Linked DNA regions of Homo sapiens. The protein of the gene in region 3 interacts with the protein of the main gene of each other region in a biochemical or structural test. Each region holds a gene or a part of one and is shown on either strand. Other genes may lie near its edges.

The links. The genes of interacting proteins can lie anywhere in the genome.
Region 1: the proteins of RAB11A (region 3) and RAB11FIP4 form a complex in vitro, tested with the Homo sapiens proteins (2 studies listed by BioGRID, with this or other methods).
Region 2: the proteins of RAB11A (region 3) and RAB11FIP5 form a complex in vitro, tested with the Homo sapiens proteins (2 studies listed by BioGRID).

The regions. Positions count from the first base shown.
Region 1 is NC_000017.11:31,387,204-31,394,698, reverse strand, and holds the start of RAB11FIP4 (rab11 family-interacting protein 4), read right to left. Parts: upstream 3,025-7,495; 5' UTR 2,847-3,024; coding exon 2,688-2,846; intron 1-2,687. UniProt on the Homo sapiens protein: Acts as a regulator of endocytic traffic by participating in membrane delivery. Required for the abscission step in cytokinesis, possibly by acting as an 'address tag' delivering recycling endosome membranes to the cleavage furrow during late cytokinesis.
Region 2 is NC_000002.12:73,088,925-73,095,948, forward strand, and holds part of RAB11FIP5 (rab11 family-interacting protein 5), read right to left. Parts: intron 392-7,024; coding exon 1-391. UniProt on the Homo sapiens protein: Rab effector involved in protein trafficking from apical recycling endosomes to the apical plasma membrane. Involved in insulin granule exocytosis. May regulate V-ATPase intracellular transport in response to extracellular acidosis.
Region 3 is NC_000015.10:65,879,467-65,886,490, reverse strand, and holds part of RAB11A (ras-related protein Rab-11A), read right to left. Parts: intron 6,821-7,024; coding exon 6,740-6,820; intron 1-6,739. UniProt on the Homo sapiens protein: The small GTPases Rab are key regulators of intracellular membrane trafficking, from the formation of transport vesicles to their fusion with membranes.

The DNA.
Region 1 (7,495 bases), on a different chromosome or scaffold from region 3:
CACAGCTGAGAGTGATAGAGGTAGGATGCTAGATTCTCTTTCTTGACAGATACAATGTGATGAAATGAACAAGACGAAATTAAATGGGAATAAGGGCCAAGAAACAGGCTTAGATTCCAGAAATTACTGACAGACAACAGGCCCGAATGCTTCCACAAGCCAGGATTGTTAAAAGAAAAAAGAAAAGAAAAGAAAAGAAAAAGGAATTGTGTACAGTAAGAGAGACTAAAAGGTGACAACAACCACATACACTGCACAGTCCTGGAGAGGAAACAGCAAAAATGGACATTTTGGGGTCAAATAGGGAAATCTGAAAAAGGTCTGCATATTAAACCAGATGAAAATTTATTGAAGCAGAAAAGTCATGATCATTTACCGGCAAAAAAAATCAGGTTACAAAACAGTATGCACAGTATGATCTCATTTTCTGGAGAAAATTGACATATAAGCATGGAAACAGCTCTGGAAAGGTCTGACAGAAGTGTCATTGAGGCGCTGCCTGAGAGATAGGACACAATACTTTTTATTTTGCTTGTCCCTATTTCCAGTTTTCTGCAATGCATATCCACCGCTTCTGTAGTAATCTCAGAGTATGCTTTTAAAAGAAAAAAATCACTGACCCTCCCCGAAGGGTGGAGAATCCCTGGCTTGGCAGAGGTTTCTAAAACAGATCCCTGGAGGTTTCGGTGGCCAGAAACTTAATATAAGCAGAGTGCAGTGCCCCATTCAGAGGCAGCCCCACCCTAAGCTGTGTGCATATGTGTGAGGTCTTGGGGCTAATATAGTCCTGGTGGGGGCGGCGGGGGGCGGTCTGCTTGTCCAGCCCTTTCATGTTATTGCTAGGAAAACTGAATCACAGAATTAGTCGATGGCAGCTCCAAGGCCAGAAGCCAGAGGTCTGGCTACTGGGTCACATGGAAATGGCCTAGGGCTTCAGGAACTGGGGTATTTGGCCTGGAGAAGGGAAAATGGGAGTATGGAGCTGGGAAGGAGAGAAGGGGCAGGAGTGCTATTTTCAAATATTTAAAGGCTCCCCCAAAGAAGAGAGACCTATGTGAGTCCCCGTGCAGAACGGTGATGACTAAGTGACAAGCAGGTCTGTCTCTAGAGTGTATGAGGGAGAAGGTTCTAATGGCAGGAACTGTCCAGCTGGGGGAGAAGTGGGTGAGGCTTGCTGGGCACGTGGCTGAGGCCGGTGGCCCCTGCCAGAGGTTGTTGGGAGGCCCTTCCCACTACTGAGGCTCTGAGTTCGGGGACTCCAGGTTTCAGCCAGAGCTGGTAGCTTCTTTACCCGACCTGCAGTCTGTGTTCTGAGAGGAAGGAGCGCGACTATCCCCATGCCAGGAGTCTGCTCAGCCTGCCCCAGATGGGAGCCACTGGAAAAACGGAAGGGCTTGGCTGGCCTTTGGGGAAGAAGGGTCATGGTGGCAGCAGGCAGTGTCCCTCAGCAAAGCCCCGCAGAGGGCAGTCTGGGCTCTCACAGGCACTGCAGTGGTCTTTCCTGTGGTGGGTACCTGAGTTCTCAAGCCCTGAAGCTGCCTCACTCTCTTCTGCCCACAGCTCTCAGCGACTCACAAGTCCCGGCCCATGCCCAGGTGCGGGTGGAGAGATGATTCTCAATCGCCTCCCACTCTCTGGTGACGCAGAGGCACGGGCCCAACCTGGCCATCACCCAGCTTCTCCCATGTTCTGAAATGCCTGGTCCGACCTGTTCTGGGAACACAATGCCAGCCAGTGCCCATTTGAGGCCCATGGCCCCAGGCCCCCCATGCAGGGCCTGAGGCCTTAGATGGCCTTGGAAACCCACTTCTCAGGGCTTTTGGCTCCAGGGGAAACCCCTGACCATTTCAGCCAGGTGGGTGTCTTGTCCTCCCCTTGAGACACAGTCCCCAGTCCCCATGCCGGTGGCACCAGAGGACACTGGTGTAGTGTGCGTTTAGTGATATGACTCCGTCCACCCTACTGGCGGCACCGACCCTCCGCTTCCAGCCCTGTTAACAATCTACGTAAGTCCTGCTTTCCCCAAATAGATGCGGCCCCGCCACATGAAAGCCCTCTGCTCAGCCACCACTCCCCGAGCCTGGCTTTGCCTGGCCTGCTGCAACCAACACAGCCAGCTGCCAGCCTGGCTGCCCAGCAGAGCCTGAATGAGAGGTCACCCGACACTGGCCCGGGAGTACACGGTGGCCCCAGCAGACACCTCCTTCCGTGTCTGGGCAGGGTGTGTGCAGCCGAGGAGCCAAGGCTGCAGAGCACCCCTACCGGTCCCTTTCACCCCCTGGCCCGGCCCAGCAGGACGTACACAGACCCTTGCATCTTGGTCTCCGCAGCGCCGGGTGGGGTGGGGAGCCTAGGGCCGGATTCTGGCAGCTCTCTCCCCCAGACAAGGGTGGATGTGCAGACCGCTCAGAAGGACCTGCATGGCCGAGGAAGGAAGGTGGGCGCAGAAGCCACCCTAGGCGTGACGCGTGACGCTCGGGGCACGGGCGCCGGGGGGCGGAAAGCGAGGGCCCGGCTGGGCCAGGGATACCCGGGGGGGGCCGAGGTCCTGGGCTCCGGCGGAGGGAGGGGATTGGGAGGGAGGCCACCGCCTCGGGCCACGCGGGTGACCCGGCGGGGGAGCTGGGGGAGGGGCGGCGGGGCTGGGCTGGGGTCCCCGGGCCGGGACTGGGGTCGGGCCAGCTTACCTCCTCGCCCTGGCCGAAGCGCAGTCCGAGCGCCGCGACGCGCTCCACGCGCAGGAAGCCGTCGGGGTCGCGGCCGCACACCTCGAACACCTCGCGCAGGCGGCGCACGGAGCGCAGCAGAGCCGCGGGGGCGCCCGACCAGCCCGCGCCGCCCGCCATCCGGGCCGGCCCGCAGCTCAGCCCGGACCCCTCGCCCGCCGCGCCCGCCGCCTGCCCGCCGCCGCCATCGCCGCGCGCCCTCCGGGGCCGCCCGTCTGGGTCTGCGCCGCGCAGCCTCCGCCCGGTGGCGGCCGCGGCCGATCCGTGTCAGCAGCGGCGCCGCAGCCCCAGCCGCTCCGGAGGGGAAGGGAGGGGAGGGGAGGGAAGGAGAAGAGTGGGGAGGGGAAGGAGGAGGGGCAATAGGGGGCGGGGAGGGGAGGGGCGGGGGCCGCGGCGAAAATGGGAGGGAGAGGGGGAGGCGGCGGGGGCGGCGGCGGCGGGGACGCTGCAGACAAAAGGAGCCCGCGTCCTCCCGAGTGGGGCGGCCCACGCGGGGCCGGCAGGCGCAGCGAGCTGCCAACGGCCGCGTCCTCCGCGACCTCAGTTTCCCTCCGCGTCCCCAGTTTCCCTCCGCGTCCCCGAGCCCACCCCTTCCTCTGGACACCCGGAGCCACCCAAAGGCCCTGCCCTGCCGGAGGATTCCGCGGGGTCGCGCCCCTTTCCGCTATCCGTGCCCGCTGCCGCGCCTGGCGTCTCCCGAGCGCTCAGGATGTCCTGGGGGCCTCCTGCATTGGCGCGTTCCGTGACTGCATTCATCCCGGAGGAAGCTGAGGCCCAGAGAGGTCGGACTCACTCTAGGCCACACAGCTGGCAAGAGGCAGGGCCGGGATTCGCTGCCATCTCTGGAGGGCTCTGGACTCCGTTCTTCACCTCCGCCCTGCGGTCTCCCGGCGCTCTCCTGCAAGACAGCACTTGTGGGGCCATCGGGCGGGGGAGGGCACAGAGAGGAGGAGCAGGCAACTGAACCCCAGCCTGGACCCGGGACCCTGCGACGGGGAGATGAGGAGAAAACCAGGATGAGGCCGGAGGGAGGAAAAGCGAGGCGCTTCCAGAGGCCTGCCTGTTCAGGGCCCAAGGCTGCTCCACGCCTGGAAGAGGCTTCCTCCCTTTCGCCGGGTTCCCACCATCACACCTCCCTGGCAGCCCGCATGCCCCAAGCTCAGAGAATCCAGGACAGAATCTCTGTCCCGCTGGCCGCAGGCTCTAGGTCAGGACCCTGGCCTCCTCCCATTAGTGCTCAGCGGAGCCTCCACCCCAGCTTGTGCTAACTTCCCAGCCCAGCCTCGGGGCCCTGCAGGACCCGGCCGGGCTCTTCTCTCCACCTTCTTGCTCGGCACATCAGGTCTTTGTGGCAACGACTGGCCCCAACCCAAAAAAAGGCCTTGGCTGAGTCTACTCCCACCTATGCTGTCATGCTCAGCACAGAGGTTTCCTCCTCCGGGAAGGCTTCTCTGATGGCACGCCATCTTATCTTCTATTCTGAGTTCTAAGCCCTTCTTCCAGGTGCCCAGTTAATTCTTAATTCTCTAGTGGGATGCCCATTTCCCCTACCATGCTGGGAAGCCCTCCAGGGCAAGATATGTCTTAATTACCTTCAAGTCCCTGATCTCCAGGCAAGAGTGGGCCCAGAGGAAGCCCCACCCAGAGGGGATGGGCCCGCCCATTATGTGAGGAGCCGGGAGCAACGTAGTGGCGCAGACAGGGAGTACGGGGTGAACTGCATGGCCTCCCCTAGCTGGGCCTCGGTTTGTACCTCTGTGGTCTTCCTGCTCAACCCTGAATATATCCTGCGCAGGGACTGCCATTTGCCTTCTGACAGTGGGCGGGGACCTCTTCTTTCCAGCCCCGGCTCCTGGGATGAACCTGGCTTTTAGCTACTCTCCTTTGACCCTTCAGTTCGTCTGAGAGCCACGAAAGGCAACACCTCTTGGGAAGAGAGACCTGTGGTTCTGAGGATTGAGGAGTCCGAAATGTGAGAAAGCGGGAAAGGGGAGGCCGTGGGAGTGGAGTAGGGGTATTCGGCTGAGTAGGAGCGTCTCTGCTAGCTGGATGCCGCTCAGCAGGATACTAGCATATTTTAGCCGGTTTCCTCGCCTGTACCGTGAGGATAATAGTACCTTCCTTTTAGGGCAACTGAAGATGAGAGCGAATCTAAGCAATGCTGCTTTCCCCCGACCTACCCTGCAAAATGGAGGTGGAAGTGGAGAATAAGGACAAGCAGCTGGCTGGGAGAGACTGGCTGCTGGAGATCCAGCCAGCCCCCTGGCAAGGAGGTAGGGAGTGGAAGCTGGGGGCTGCTGCCTGCCCCTGGGACCCCGATATTAGTTCGTCCAAGGTCAGCTCGTGCCATTTTCTCTCACCCAAGGGGCTCAGCACAGAAAGGAGATGGCCAGGAGCTGGGGCTGCCCCCTGGTGGGGGCTGCAGAAATGGCTCTCCGCGCTCAGCCTGGCATTGAATGCCCCCTAACTGGGGACAGGGGAGCTGGAAGACTCACCCACTTCAGCTGGCAGAGGCGGGGACCTCAGACCTGAGCATGAACAAATCCCAAGTGAACCAAGACAGAATCCCGCAACCAGATTAGCCAGTTCTTGTCAAAGACAGGATCATCACAAATTCAAAAATCCCCCAGGAGAGCTTTCCCTGACCGGACTCTCCTTGCCCAGGTCTCTGCAGTTTTGTCTCTGGTGGGCGATGGTTTGAAGGACACCTGCCTCCCCCACCAGTGGCACTGGGTCTCTTGCTCACCGCTGTGCTGCTGGGGCCAGCAAAGCACGTCACAGGCATTCTTTCTGGGGTTGTCACGTTTTTGTTGAGCACCTACGTTGTGTTGGGTATGCTAGGGAGACAGTGAAAGGGGTGCAGCCACTTGCTGAACTTGATGGGGGCAGTCATGGCCCAGTGTGATCTACACTGAGGTGCCAGGCTCTAGGAGCCCAAGAGGGCCTGCAGAAATGGCTGAGTGCCTACCCAAAGGTCCCTCAGAGATGGTGCAATTTATGGAGTCCTTGGGTCCTTGGAAGTGGACCTGGGACCACTAGGGCTCCCAAAACCCTGATCCAAGAGCTCAGAGTGCAGCCCCGAGCAGAAGCAGCAAGAGAATACCCATGTCAGGGCCGGCTGCAGGGTGAAGGGGGTTGCTCCAGGAAAGCAAGAGGTCCCCATGGATAGGGCGGGAAGGCGCGGAGCCTCCTTTCTGTCCTCCGCTTCCTCCAGGTGACCTCTGATTCTCCAGGGGATTTCCAACAGCTGCAGCAGCCTGGGCAGGCTGGAAATATACTGGGAAATATACATGGAAGGGACAGTTGGGACTCCGGCCCCTTCTCTAGGAAGAAACAAGTTTGATCAGGTCCCTCCCCTGCTGAAAACTCAATGGCCACCATTGCCTGAGCTGGCATTGTGCAGTGTCTTCATACTCTCCTGCCTCTCCTTAACCCTAGTCTGGGAGCATCCAGGCTCCCTCCTGCCTCCCTTTGCTTAGTGGGTGGGAGGTCTCAATCCTACCCCCACCCAATTCCACTTTCTCTAATTCCTGTCCTTGTGTTGTGGAAGTGGCACTTCCTACCGGAAGCCTTTCATGACCACCCCACTCCTTGCCCACCTTGACCACCTCTCCCATGTGCTCCTGCAGAGAAGTGAAAAGTACAGACTGCAGCCCACTTACAGGTATGGATAAGGCTGTGGTGAGAGTCAGTAAGTTAATACATACATTGTAAGTGTCAGAACAGTGCTGCTGGTTAGTGACAGCTATTGTCCTTGTGACTATCCTTACCATCTTACTCCTATTGTCTATCACCGGATTATCTGGGAAACTGTATGAAAGGTCACAGGAGTGACCATGAGGTCCCTGGGAGCAGGGACTGTGTCTATTTCTCTCCTGATTTCTGTAGCTCCTAAATAATGCCCATACACACATAGTTAGGGTCTGTGTAGGAATAAATTAAGGAATGGACAAATATGGCATGGTAGGCTGAAAAATGCCCCCTTAAATGATATCTATATTCCAATCCCTGTACATCAGTGGTCCCCAACCTTTTTTGGCACCAGGGACTGGTTTCATACAAGTCGGGGGAAGAGGGTCTTGGGATGAAACTGTTCCAACTTAGATCATCAGGCTTCAGATTCTCATAAGGGGTGCGCAACCTAGATCCCCCTCCTGCGCCATTCACAATAGGGTTCCCGCTTCTATGAGAATCTAATGCCACTGATCTGACGGAAGGTGGAGCTCAGGCGGTAATGCCCACTCACCCGGCGCTCACCTCCTGCTGTGGTTCCTAACAGGCCATGAACTGGTAATGGTCTGCAGTCTGGGCGTTGGGACCCCTGCTGTAAATGTTACCTCATTAGAAAAAGGGTCTTTGCAGATGTAATTAAGGATCTGGAGGCTGGGCGTGGTGGCTCACGCCTGTAATCCTAGCACTTTGGGAGGCTGAGGCAGGCAGATTGCTTCAGTCCAGTAATTCGAGACCAGCCTAGGCAATGTGATGAAATCCTGTCTCTACTAAAAAATACAAAAATTAGTTGGGCATCGTGGCATGTATCTGTAGTCTCAACTACTCAGGAGGCTGAGGCAGGAGGATGGCTTGAGCCAAGGAGGTGGAGGTTGCCGTGAGCCCAGATCATGCCACTACAGTCCAGCCTGGGTGACAAGAGTGAGACCCTGCCTCCAAAAAAAAAAAAAACAAAAAAAAAACTAACAACAAAAAAAACAACAGGATCTGGAGACAGGGGGGTTATTCTGGGTTAGCTAGGTGGACCCTTAATGCAATCA
Region 2 (7,024 bases), on a different chromosome or scaffold from region 3:
GAGTTCGGCGCCAGGTCCCTGGTAGGCCAAGCTCCCGCTGGCTGAGGACAGGGTGCTGTCCGAGCCCAGCGAGGTGTTGGACTGGGTCAGGGACGACTTGCGCAGCTTGTTGCGGAGGAAGAAGCCTTTGGCTTTGCCCATCTTGCCCAGGCTGCCCAGGTCAGGATCCTCTATGGCGCTGCTTGGGAGGATGGCAGAGGCAGATTCCAGATCATACTTCTTCTTGCCCTTCATCTTGTCCCTGATCTTGCTGAAGGGAGACCTTGGCTTGTCCTTCATGGACAGGTCAAACATACTGGCGCTCAGGTTGTTGCGCGTGAACTGGATGGTGACTTCAATCTCGCCGCGTTCCTTCTCCTTCTTGCCTGGCTTGGAGTGCAGCTTGTACCACCTGTGAGAAGAGGGGAGCAGGCAGAACTCAGTCACGGGCCCAGGGAGCCTGGCTCCCGCCCGGTACCAGGCACTGCCCAGACCCCTCCTTGCTCTGAGAGCCACTGATAGCCTCTCCCCAAAGGCTCCTGCTCTGACCCATCGGCCTGGGCTTCCAGGCTTCAGATGCAGCTGAGAAACTATCCAAAACATTTCCATGATGGAGAAAACCACATCCTGAGTGGGGAAGCTCCTCGGGTGCCACCAGGTAGGGCGGCGGTTACCACACCATGCCTCCTCCCACCCCAGGACCTTCTCCTGGTGCTCAGAGACCTCTCCTCTGCCCCATCTCCCCTACATCTGAAACTCTGAGGCCCAGAGGGGTGAGGCTGGGCCTGGGAGAGCCCTCCCATCTCCAGGCCCCAGCACAGACAGACCTACCCACATTTCTCCCTGTTGACATCATCTCCTCTGGCCAGTCCCAGCCAAAGCTCTGCTCCCAGCCACCGTGAGCCCAGGAAAGAACAGCTCACCCAGAGGCCCAGGGCCAGGAACACAGGAATGCTAGTGCATACACTCATGTATGTATACACACACACACACACACACACACACACACACACCTCACTCACACACTGACTCACCCCAAGCCCTGTCAGGAATACCTCTACAAGATGCAGGAACAGACAAGAATGGCAGAAAGAGACCCAGGAAAGACGAAGAGCGCTCATATCTGTTGAGCATCTATGGTGCATTACGACCAGCATGAGGGTTCTTACCTCACTCCCGCACATACCTCCCAAAAAGCATATGAGGTAAGAGGTACTACCCCATTGTACAGATCAGGAGGGTGAGGCTCAGTGGTAAAGGAACCCATCCGTGGAGACTCAGAGCCAGGTGTCCAGCCCTCCAAAGCTTAAGTTCTTCCCGGTGCACACCCACTGTGCCCAGAGAGACACAGAGACAGCCCCCAACACACATGGCCACCACACAGGGTGGCTGGGGCCCGCCCTACTGGGGAGAGATGTTCTTATGCAGGGGTTGGCAGTTTCTTAGAGAACTAAGCAAACTCCGATCACACAAGGAGCAATCACACTTCTTGGTACTTTGCCTACTGAGGTAAAGACTTATGTCCAAAGAAACACCCTGCACACAAATGTTTATAGCAGCTCTGTTCATGATTGCCAAAACTTGGAAGCTGCCAAGGTGTCCTCCAGTAGGTGAAAAGATAAGCAAACTGTGGTACATCCAGACAATGGAATACTACTTAATGATAAAAATAAATAGGCTATCAAGCCATGAACAGACACGGATGGATCTTACATACATAAGTGAAAGAAGACAATCTGAAAAGGCTTCATGCTTGCACGACAAAACTATTTGACATTCTGCAAAAGGCAAAACTATGGAGACAGTGAAAAGATCAGTGGTTGCTGGGGGATTGAAGAGAGGACAGAGCGATGAATAGGCAGAGCACAGGGACTTCTCAGGAGAGAAAAACTATCCTGCATGCTACCGTAATGGTGGACATGCATTGTTATACACCCACAGAATGCACAAAACAGCAAGTGAACCCTAACATAATGTATAGACTCTAGTTAACAATGACGTGTTGATATTGGCTCTCAAATACAACAAACATGCCACACTAATGCAAGATGTTAACAGAAGAAATGGCGGTGGGGGCGTGGGTGGAGTAGATGGGAACTCTCTATACTTTTCACTCGTTTTTCTGTAAACTTAAAACTGCTCTGAAAAATAGACTTTATTAACTAAAAAAAAGAGAGCAGGGAACACAAAAAGGAAGAAACTATGAAGGAAATCATACAAGAATGTTTTTCTGAACTGAAGAACATGAATGCTAGAACAGTCCTACAAGTATGCAGCGCAATGAACTAAGACAGACACATGCCAACAGATATGACTATGAGGCTTAGAACACCAGGCATGAAAGGATTCGAACAGCACTGGAGTCTTCCTTAGCAACACTGGGCACCACATGAAGGAATGTCTTCACATTTCTGAGGGAAAAGCCTTCCACTAGCCTGGAATTCCAGACCCAGCCAATCGAGCATGAAGGTGGAATAAAGCCCGGTGGTAGTGGTCAGGCTGGTCACTAAAGGGCTCAAAGTCCCTTGGTGACTGCACAGCACACACACACATACACACACACACACACGCACACAGAGCTACCCAAGCCGCAGTCAGTGATGCAGGATCCACCTCCCGCCTGAGCTCTGCCCCCAACAATGCCAGCTCCCTGAGCTTCTGGTGGACACAGAGTGGGGTGTGGGGAGCCTTTGTATGAAAAGTCCCTATACATCCAAAGATCCAGAATTAAGTCACAGCAAAAGCTTGGTGGTAGTGGTGGTAGTATTTTGATTATTTTTTAATGTTGAAGTTTTTTTAAAAAGGCTTCCTGGGGCACCTCTGACTCTTCTACATCCCTATAGAAGAGCCCATCATGACGAAATCCTGGTGGGCTATGGCCCGTCCCCTCCGTGGAGACCTACTCCGCAGCCTGAGCGGCCTGAGCCTAGACTTTGGTTTTCCCTCCCAAACCTGAGAGACAATCCCCTGAGAAGGCCGGGTAGGAACAGATGGTGCCACAGGCAGGGCGGACAGAGAAAATGCCCGAGCGGGTGCCTCTCTCATAAGGCACGGGCAGAAGTGAGGGGAGGAGAGGCTAATTGAGACAGACAGACTGGAGGATGTATGTGAGGGTGTCTGTGGGGCAGGAGAGGAAGTTTGACAGAAAGACCAGCCAGCAGCATCAACAGCCTCACACCTCTACGTTCTCAGCCCAGTGACCACCGTGGGCCTGACCCTTTACCTATTTAGAGGCCAAGCCCTAGTCACTTTCCCTAAATCTGGGCTAGGCCCTATCTAGCACAGGAAAGTCCTGGGAGGTAGGGCAAAAGAGAAGGGTATGGACTCCAGCCCCAAACCGCCCAAGCCCTGAGTAACTAGGATCAGCAAGCACAGCCAGCCTTTGCTGGGGCAGACAGGTCAGGGGCCCTCAGCCCCAGCTACTCACACTGCACACACCACAGCGGTAATGCAATTACCTGAGGGGACCGGGGCCCTGTGGTGAGATTGCAGGGAACTAGCACTTCCTACATTGTCTATTTTTGTCCTATTTGAATGTTTTATAAGGAGCATATATTACTGTGGTAATAGGAAAAAGAGACAAGGGAAAGCTCTTGCTCCTATCTCATCTCAGCTTCCTGAGCCACAAAATGGGCCGTGCTCCTCTGCCTCCCAGCCCTCAGAGGAAGGCGGGAGGCCGAGTTTCAGGTCCTTTGCCACAAGGACCTTTTGGGCCTCTCTCCCCTATAAGGTCACTTCCCCTTCTCCTGTTCTGCCCAGCCCTCCCCCACAGGGAATTTGGGTTTCTCCCTGGACTTGTTTTTCAAGGAAGCACGGAAGGAAAAAGAAAAAGCTTCCCTGAATATTTTTTAGGCTCTCCCATCCAGAGCACAGTGAAATGGAGAATGGCCAGGACCTACCTCTGGACCCCAGCTGCCATCACTCGTCCACCTCCCTTCCAGCCCCACCTCCCTCTGCAACCCAGTCAAGGGCAGGACTGAATGGGATACTGCCTGGCACCTTGGCCACCCTGGGCACCCCAGGGACTCAACCAGAGCAGACCTTCTCCCAGAAGTATGGCCTACATGAGCTGAGATGGCCACATCCTCCCCCTCCCTAGAGGTGCTACTTCCCTGTGCCTGGACCAGACAGCCCCACAGACCTGTCGGGCACCATGGAGGTCCACTGGAGAATGGAAAACTATGAACACTGTCGAGGGGGGCTGAGGAATCCGCAATGAAAACAAATGGAGGCTTTCTTTTCACAGAGCCCCACACGCAGCAGAGCAAATGGGCTCTGAGCACCTCATCCCTAGAGACTGAAGCCCCCACGGGGAATATGACAGCAGGGTCCTATGACCTAGTTCAAGTCCCACTCCTCTGGGAAGCTCCCTCAGCTGCCACCATCCTGCTGGCCTGGCCCAGTCCCTCCTCTTTCTGACCAGGCATACACACTCTGAACCAAACTCACTCTACAGCCAGATCTGGCAGCACCGTGCCCCAGGACCCCCTGGTGTTGTCATGTCCTGGGCACCCAAGGTCTCCCTTGCTGGACTGTGTTTCTTGTGGATATTGACTGAGTATCCCCTGGGGCACACAGCTCCAAAGTAAAGAAATCATGCATGCACAGTCTGGAGCTGTTACAACCCTGCAGGGCCCTCTCTCAGCTCTCATCTGGATGCGCCTGACAGCAGGGCATGGTGGTGAGTGCTGGGTCCCCCACTGACCAGGTCACCTCCCTCAGCCTCCGCTTCCTTGGCCCTCAGGTGGGGACAACCATCCTCTTGGCTGTTGGGAGGCTAAGGCACGCCAAGCCTGGTTGGCAAAACCAGCTTATCCTCTCACTCTCTCCCACGACCGTGAGCTCTTAGGACTCCTGCTCTTGAATCCCTGACGCCGATCGCTCTGCCTAGCCTTCAAGGGAACGTGCCAGATCCTTTAATAAATATTCAACCTCGGACGCGCATGGTGGCTCATGCCTGCAATCCCAGCACTTTGGGAGGCCAAGGCGGGCAGATCACTTGAGGCCAGGAGTTTGAGACCTGCCTGGCCAACATGGCGAAACCCCGTGTCTACTAAAAATACAATAATTAGCTGGGTGTGGTGGCACACGTTTGTAATCTGAGCTGCTCGGGAAGCTGAGGCATGAGAATCACTTGAACCTGGGAAGCGGAAGTTGCAGTGAGCCAAGATTATATCACTGCACTCCAGCCTGGGCAACAGAGTGAGACTTTGTCTCAAAAAAAAAAAAAAAAAAAAAAAAATCCAACCTCAACTTCCCAAGTCTGGCTGTGCAAGAGATAGGCCCTGGTCTCCAGTTTTGGAGATTCTGCTACTGTTCCTTCCTCCCTACCTGATCAAGGTTTTTTCTCCCTCTCTGTGCCCTTCACCAGGCCTAGCTGACTGGGGCACTGGGCTTAGGAACTCCAAAGCCCAAGCTGAGGCCTGACCTGTCACTTTCATCCAGGGCAGAGACATGGCCAAAATCAATCAGGGTGTGACCAAGGCCCCAACATTCATCTAGACAATGGCTCACAAGACAGCTCTCATTTTCACAGCTCCACAGCTGTAGCACCCAAACCTGCTATGCATCGGTGCAGGATTTATATACAGATATAAATCCACCCAAGACGCCACCCAGACTTACTGAACTAGAAGGTCCCGGCCTGGTTATCTATATTTCTCAGTGGGTTTGGGGGTGGGGCCCCACAGGTGAGTGAATTCACCCAGACCCCATGTGGGAACCACAAGGATGGTCCCTAACGCTTTACATCACTTTAAGGTCAGCGGCCACCTGGGCTCTCCACCTGGGCTTGTCCTTAAGGACACTCAATCGGTACCCAGGAGAAACCTGTGTCTTTCTCCTGCCCAGTAAGGCTTGCCTTCCCAAGTCCCGAGGACACGCTGCTTCTGAGAGGACTGACCCTAGAAATACTCATCCCTCCCCCAGGAGGGGGTAAGTTACCAAAGGAACACACTGGGGAGGAGCAGGCAGCATTAAGCACTTTCTAGAAATTAAGAGTGTTAAGATGAATTAGGCCTCCTAGATCAGAAACCACTGGAGAAACAACACTCTCACCAAACCAGGAGGAAGGACAGTGATTCTGCCCCCATACAATTCCCCTGACACCCACCTGGTGCTCAGAGTCCGGGCTGCCTGCAGCACATATATCACTAACTGGCACATCCTTCACTGCAGGAACTAAGCTGCTCCACCTGCAAAGCACCCACCTTGACTTCATCTCTCTGTCAGGGGCACCATCTGGGGCACTTGAACTCTCCAAGGCCCAGCCAGCACATGCTCAGGACACAAGGGTTTTGATGAAGATGGTGATTATCTGGGACTTGTCCCAGGTGCCTCTGCAGCCAGGACATGATGGACACAGTAAGAAAAGGCACAGTAAGAGAAAATTCCTTGCACCTGAAGAGGCACACGCAGCTACTGATGCTGCTCTTCAGAAGACACACATCAGTGCTTCTCAAACTGCAAAGTGCAAAAAAAAATCACTGGATCTTGTTAAAATGTGTATTCTGATACCCAAAGTGTAGGTGGACCTGAGAGAGCTCCCAGCTACCCATGCTGCTGCTGGCCCAGAGGCCACACCTGAGCAGAGGGCTGCACATGAGGGGGCTAGAGAATGGCCAGAGCTGACCCTGCTGAGGGCTCACTGTGTGCCTGGCTCTGCAGCTCTTTTATTATCCATGCAACCAGCCCAGGAGATGGGAGGCCCATTTTACAGATGAGGAAACTAAGTTGTGGAGATGGTTTGTAAGTTGCCCAGGGCCACACAGCTAGTAAGTAATGGAGCTGGAACTTGAACATGAAAATGCCAGCCTCCAAGCCCATGTCCTTAACCTTTAAGGTTTAGCAACTTTCAGAAAAGCAGAATGCATATACTCCTGCCCTGAGTACCCTGAGAAGACAGAGGCCAGTAAAGGCCTGGCTACACATCACAGACCCTGAAGACCAGACCCCCTTTCAAAAGGTTGGCACAATCCCAGAGCACAGAGCCCTGAGATGCCACTGAGGGGACCTCAGGGTTTTGTCCTGTCCTTAGCCCCTCAAA
Region 3 (7,024 bases):
CCTAATACGATGTACTAGGAAAGACACAATGTATTCCTATAAAGGACACCATGTATTCCTGACAAAAATATTTAAAACTAATTTAATCATGAGGAAATAATGAGATAAATCCAGACTGAGATGGGGATAAATGTTCTAAATTTGTGCTATCCAAGAGAGTAGCCATCTATTTTAATTAAATAAAATTTAAAATCCAATTCCTCATCTAACTAGCCACATTTCAAGTGCTCAATAGTAACCTGTGGCTACTTTATTCAACATCCCAGATACAAAACAATTCCATCTGTTAAGGCTCAGAAACCCATACTCCAAAATGGCGTTTTGATATGCTGAACTAAAGAAGCCTCAAGGTCTCTCTGACCTTCTCCCCCTCATCCTCTCTCCCTGGCACAGGATGAAGCTGAAGTTCCTTCATCTGCCTGAGATCCAGACCCACTAAAAGGGACAATTGTTTTTTCTTCCCCTCCCTGTAAGATCAAGAATGTAACCACACTTAAACAGACTCTTTCACGAGATAATGTACCAATTAATTTCTGTCCACTGATCCGTTCATCCTCCCCAGTAATCCCCTCAACAGAATTCCTTTTCTCCTCCTTCCCATAACCTGTTTTGCCAGAATGGCATAAGCCTCTGAATGCCATTGGGAGGTGGGTCATCTCTCTGGTTCTCCCCAGAGAAAACCAGTGTACAGTGTACATGTTAATAAATTTCGTATGCCTTTTCTCCAATTAAAATGCCTTTTGTGAGTTGATTTTCCAGCAAACTTTCAGAGGTTTCTATTTAGATCTCCTACAAGAGAAATCTAAATGATATAAAAATGATAAAGCAGGATTCTTTTTCTTCCTAACCTCTACCTATCGTTTGGACCTCGTGAAAGGTCCAAAGCTGTATCAGATAGCTTTCAGCAAACCTTCAGAGGGCAATAGGGACACTTCCCTTGGCTCCTATACATGTGATCTTTAAATGGATCTTGAATTTTTTAATTAAAAAACAAATCTACAAAGGACATTATTAGTATACTGAAGAAATATGAATATGGATTGCACATTAAAAACTGTATAAATGGGCCAAGCGAGGTGGCTCACGCCTGTAATCCCAGCACTTTAGGAGTCCAAGGCGGGCGGATCACGAGGTCAGGAGATCAAGACCATCTTGGCAAACATGGTGAAACCCCGTCTCTACTAAAAATACAAAAAAAAAATTAGCCAGGTGGGGTGGCACCCGCCTGTAGTCTCAGCTACTTGGGAAGCTGAGGCAGGAGAATCGCTTGTCCCGGAGGGGAGGTTGTAGTGAGATAGCACCACTGCACTCCAGCCTGGGCAACAGAGCACACTGTCTCAAAAAAAAAAAAAAAAAACTGTATAAATGTTAAATTTCTTGGATACGACATATGGTATTGTGATTATGTAGGAGAATGCCTTTTTTTTTGAGACAGAGTCTCACTCAGTGAGCAGTGAGGTTGAGACTGCACCACTGCACTCCAGCCTGGGGACAGTGTGAGACCCTGTCTCCAAAAAAAAAAAAAAACGGTGGGGGCGACTGCATAGGAATTGGTATATTCATTTGGTTCTAAAGGAGAACATGCCTTTGAAAGAAGGAAATAGATCTAGTTTAGCATACCCCCCCACCCCCACAAAACTCCCAATGAAATAACCTTCTCTAATCAGACAGCTAGAAGTTACCTGCTTCCTACTTTCTTATCAGGTTTTTGGTTTGGTTTTTTTTTTTTTTTAATGACACACCCAGCCACAAGAGACTTAAGTATGTAAATTACTTGTGGAACCTCTTAAAGCCAATCACTCTTTATTGCTTTGGTGGCATTTTTATTAGCAGACATCCTTTTTGGTAACTGGAGTAAGTGCAGCAGTAATCTATTTCTAAAAAACAGTATGCTGTACTTGTAACACACCAACACTGCTCAAATTTCTTGCTTTGTAATGAGATCTCTTTAATTATTTACTTCTCTATGTTCTTTGAGAAGTCTGCCTTTCCCTCTCTTCCAGTTTTACATATATTTGTTTTTTATGTAAGAACTTTTCTTTGTTTTGGTTCCCCTAATTTAATCTTCAAAACAATTTATAAGGAAGTTAAAACTTACAGTGGGTTACATATTTCATCTTAATTTACACACATAATTTACACTTGAAAAAGAAGAGCCTCCCAGTTTGAGACTAGAGGGAAAGCTTAAAGATGCAAGTTAATTATCTTTATTCCTTAGCCACTCATCTGATTGAATGACTGAAAGGTAAATCCTTTTCTTTAGCCTTGGCACCCTCCCATCCCATCCTTTTTCATTGAAACAAAATCTAAATAAAGATTCCATATCCTTTTTTTTTTTAATTTTAATTTTAGTAGCCTGTCTTTATTGAATCCTAGTTGTCTTTCCTTAATGCCTCTTCACATTTGAACCACTGTCAACCTTCTCAGACATAAATTTTAGCCACTCCCCTTCCCCCACAAAAGAATCTAAGAAAAGATACACTTGCTGTCTGTTTTTGTTAGTTTACATATTCAGTTGACTACAGCTTACTGTTTTTCAACTTCTGAGAAATTAGTTCTTAATTTTGGAAAATGTAGTAATTCAGTTAATACATCTCTAACTTTTTTTTTATGGAAATTTTCTGACATACCAAAAGCAGAATAAGGCCAGGGGCGGTGGCTCACACCTGTAATCTCAGCACTTTAGGAGGCCAGGCGAATCACGTGAGGCCAGGAGTTAGAGACCAGCCTGGCCAACATGGTAAAACCGGTCTCTACTTAAAATACAAAATTAGAGAGCATGGTGGCTCAGGCCTATGATCCCAGCTACCCGGGAGGCTGAGACACGAGAATTGCTTGAACCTAGGAGGCAGAGTCTTGCCTGGCAGAACAAGACTCAGGGGAAAAAAAAAAGAATTTAGTGTTCATGCTAAAAAGATATCCTGGACATATTAATTACATGGAGAAACCTAGCAGACATCACCTTAACCAAGTGGTCAAAGTTAACATCACTAGTAATTAATAGGACATCCAATTATCACAAACCTGCTGATATGATGCACTGAGAACACTTCTGTGGTGTTCCTGCCAAAAGTGTATAACTTGAGTTTAATCATGAGGAAAGAAATCAGAAAAGCCCAAAATGAGGTACACAACAAAATAACTGGACTGTACCCTTCAAAAATGTCAAGGTCAATAAACAAAAGATTGAGGAACTGTTCGAGATTAGAGGAGACTAAAGAGATATGACTGCTGAATGAAACGCATGACCTGATCTTGGACTTTCTTTGGCTAATAAGGGTATTATTGGAACAACTGGCAAAATCTGAATAAGGTCTGTAATTAAACACTGATGTGGCACTATTATCTAACTCTCTGATTTTGATAATTATACTGTGGCTATAAAAGAGAATATCCTTGTTTTTACAAAATATACACTGAAAAGTACTCAAGGATGAGGGTCATCATGTCTGCCACTTAATCTCACATGGTGCCGAAAAAATATGTATATATTTAGAGCGAAGAGAAAGAAAAGGACAAAGCAGATGTGGTAAAATATTAACATCTGAGGAATATGGGTGAAGGATATTTGCAAATTCTTTTTACTATTATTTCAACCTCTTTAAATTTGAAATTGTCAAAATGCAAAGTTAAAATAAAAAAGTAAAAGGTATGTATTAAAAACATCCTTTAGTGAACCTGAGAAAAGACAAAGCTGTACTGAAATTCAGAGGCGGAGCAATCTACCAGTCTCACTCTCATACTAGTAAACTACCTCTAAAAAAATACCATCAGCAAAATCATCTCATGGAGTCACTTTCAAATTCATGGGTGTCAAGAATGCCATGGGTCTATTCTGAAACCAACAACACAATTAACTCTGAAGTAACAATGTAAATTTTCTGATATATAATTTTACAACTTAAAATTTTTGGCCAGGCATGGTGGCTCATGCCTATAATCCCAGCACTTTGGGAGGCCAAGGCAAGCAGATGGCTTGAGCTCAGGAATTCAAGACCAGACTGGGCTCCATCTCAATTTTTAGAAATTTTAAAGCTATTTTTTCTTTCAGCAATATCAAAACACAACGTAAATACTCCCTTAAGACTGTTAACATTTAAGGTAGAATCAAGTGCAATAAAGAGTCTGTCCTCTTCACTGTTTTCTCTATGCATTCACACTTCCACTGGCATACAGGAGGAAGAAAGTTTAGAACAAACATCCTAACACCTGCAGAACAACACAGATGTCTGCTGCCACATGCAGTGATCTCTGATCCTACAGACCAACAGTGAGATTTATGCAGGAAGCTGAGGAAACAGTGAATATAGAAAGGAAAAGTGGTAGCAAGTGAAACTAAAGTCTTCTTTGCTTTCAAGCAACAATTAAGCTGTAACAAAAGTTCAATCTAGAGTGAATTTTAAGAAAAGCAACTATATGTTCATCTTTTTTTTTCTTTTTGAGACAGGATCTCACTCTGCCCACAAGGCTGGAGTGCAGTGGCATGATCTCGGCTCATTGCAGCCTAAACCTCCCAGGCTCAAGCAATCCTCCCACCTCAGCTGGGACTACAGGCGCACACACTACCATGCCTGGCTAATTTTTTTGTGTTTTTTTTTTTTTTTTTTTTTTTTAGAGACAGGGTTTTACCATGTTGCCCAGGCTGGTCTTGAACTTTTGAGATCACTGCATGTGGCAGCAGACATCTGTGTTGTTCTACAGGTGTTAGGATGTTTGAGCTCAAGCGATCCGCCTGCCTCAGCCTCCCAAAATGCTGGGATTACAGGCGTGCATCAACATGCCCAGCTCTTAAAGGGCTCAATTTTAAGTACCGACTAGTTCATGTTTGAGTGGATCAGAAGCTCAATGTTACAAAATGATGCATAAAATAGTTAACTGCAGATGGAAGACTTGGGCTCATCTTCACTTAATATCAGAATAAATGGGCCAGAATTACAGCAGAGGAGATTTGATGGAACATAAAAAATATTCCAACAATGAGGACTGTCTAAAAAGTTTTTTCAGATGAGACTTTCTGAGGCCTTAAAATGCTCACACATCTTTAAGGTAATTTAATTCACATGTTTTAAGACTATGACTCTGAGGAGCAGGGAGGTTCAGTGACTTTAGTTAAACGGGGAGTAGAAGCAAAGTGATAAAAATGTAATGCCCTAGAACTCCTGGGTCTCAATCTAGTACTCTACATGTTGACTTAATAAAATGTACACAAATGGCTATAAAGAAAACAAGGACTTGCAGACATACTACATATTTAATCAAATCTTGCTTGCTTAAAACAATCTGCAGTGAAACTTTGACAGAGAACATTCTAAAGGAAAGCTACTGTGTTCCAAAGACTGCTTATCCAACCCCAGCACTATTCTTCTGATAACAGAAAAGAATTATAATAAAATAGGTACATAAATCTCCAATTTTCTCATGCCTTAATTGCCGTTCAGCTACTAATTTGCCAACTGTTCTCTATATACCAGGGATAGATAAGTAATTTACAGTATTCAAAATGGGTACTTTACAGGTACTCATTTTTGAAGTCTAGGGCAGTGACAGACCATTCTTTGCTAAGGGTTACTGAGACAAAAAACCTTTAGGTCACAAAAGTCAAGTCAAATCCTATCACAAGATTTTATAAATATAAGCCTTCTCTCAAAAAAGAAATAACAAAACTCCTCAAAATATATATGAATTTTATAGATGGAGAAATTAAGGCCTAAAAGGGTTAGGTAACTTGCCTAAGATTGTACAACTAACAGTAAGTGGAGGAGCCAGGACTAGAACCCAAGTCAGGCTTCCAAATCTTAACTCCTTGACTTTACGCTTACATTTTTACAGTAAAAGAAGATAACATGTTAAAGTTAAAATCTGTTAATCTCTAATACAGGGGCTGCATACAAACAATAAATCAAAACTTGTTACATTATAATTGGAAACTCAATCATATCTCTGTATAGACTTTTTAGAACAATGCCACGTAAAACTATACTATATATTAAGACCACATTTTAAATCATGAGTTCTTAAAAGTAACATACAATTTAAAAGTATTTAAAAACAACCCATCAAAGTACTAATTAGAAGATTAAGACTAATCTTACTAATAAATCTGGTTATTCTAATAGTTTCAGGATAAATATGAGTGAACACTTCTTATCTCAGAGGCTGACCTGGTCATTCACATTCCAAAACAGCATGAACTCCATCTCTTTCCAACTACTTTTTAAAACTTTTCTATATGCAATCATTGGCTGATTTTATCTACCAATTATCTCCCATGATACAATATAGAATACGCAAGGGATACCCTTCTTCTGTATCATGGGAGAATTTTATTTTGTCGCTATAATTTTTAAAAATGTTTTTTCCCTAGCTTTGCCTTTACTAAATTTAAAAAAGGGCATTTATATCTTTCTATAGCTGGGATCTCAATATTTACCTCATAAAAGTACATTTAAACATTACTTTGTGACCATGAAGAATGGAATACCTGGACTGAAGTAATAATGGAAGTGAATGAATTATTTTCAAAGTATTTTTCCCACTATAAATCAGATGAATTAGGACAACTGAAGCTCAGTGAGCAAGGGTTGTAGTTAATTTTGCACTCTAAACAGCTTTTGCTAGAGTAGCTCTCAAATGATAGTCACTCTCGGCTGATATATAGTTTAGTTACTGATTAGTTTGTTTAAATTACCTTCCTAAAACTTCTAGTCCTACTGGTGTAATCTGAAAATACAAGTCTTACCTGTTAAAATTGTCTGAAAAGCAGCTTCTACATTTGTAGAGTCTAGGGCCGAAGTTTCAATGAATGACAAACCATTCTTTTCTGAGGGGAGACACAAAAGTTCAGTCTTGTTAAGTTTTAAAACAAGGAATAGGATATACTCAAGCCCTCAAAAGGAAAAATAACAGAACTTTTTAAAACTTAAGACCTCCTCAACTTCTGGGACAGTAAGGGCACCATTCTGTTTACACTTTATTTATTTACTTACTTTATTTACTTCTTTATATAAGTAGAGATGCAGGTCTC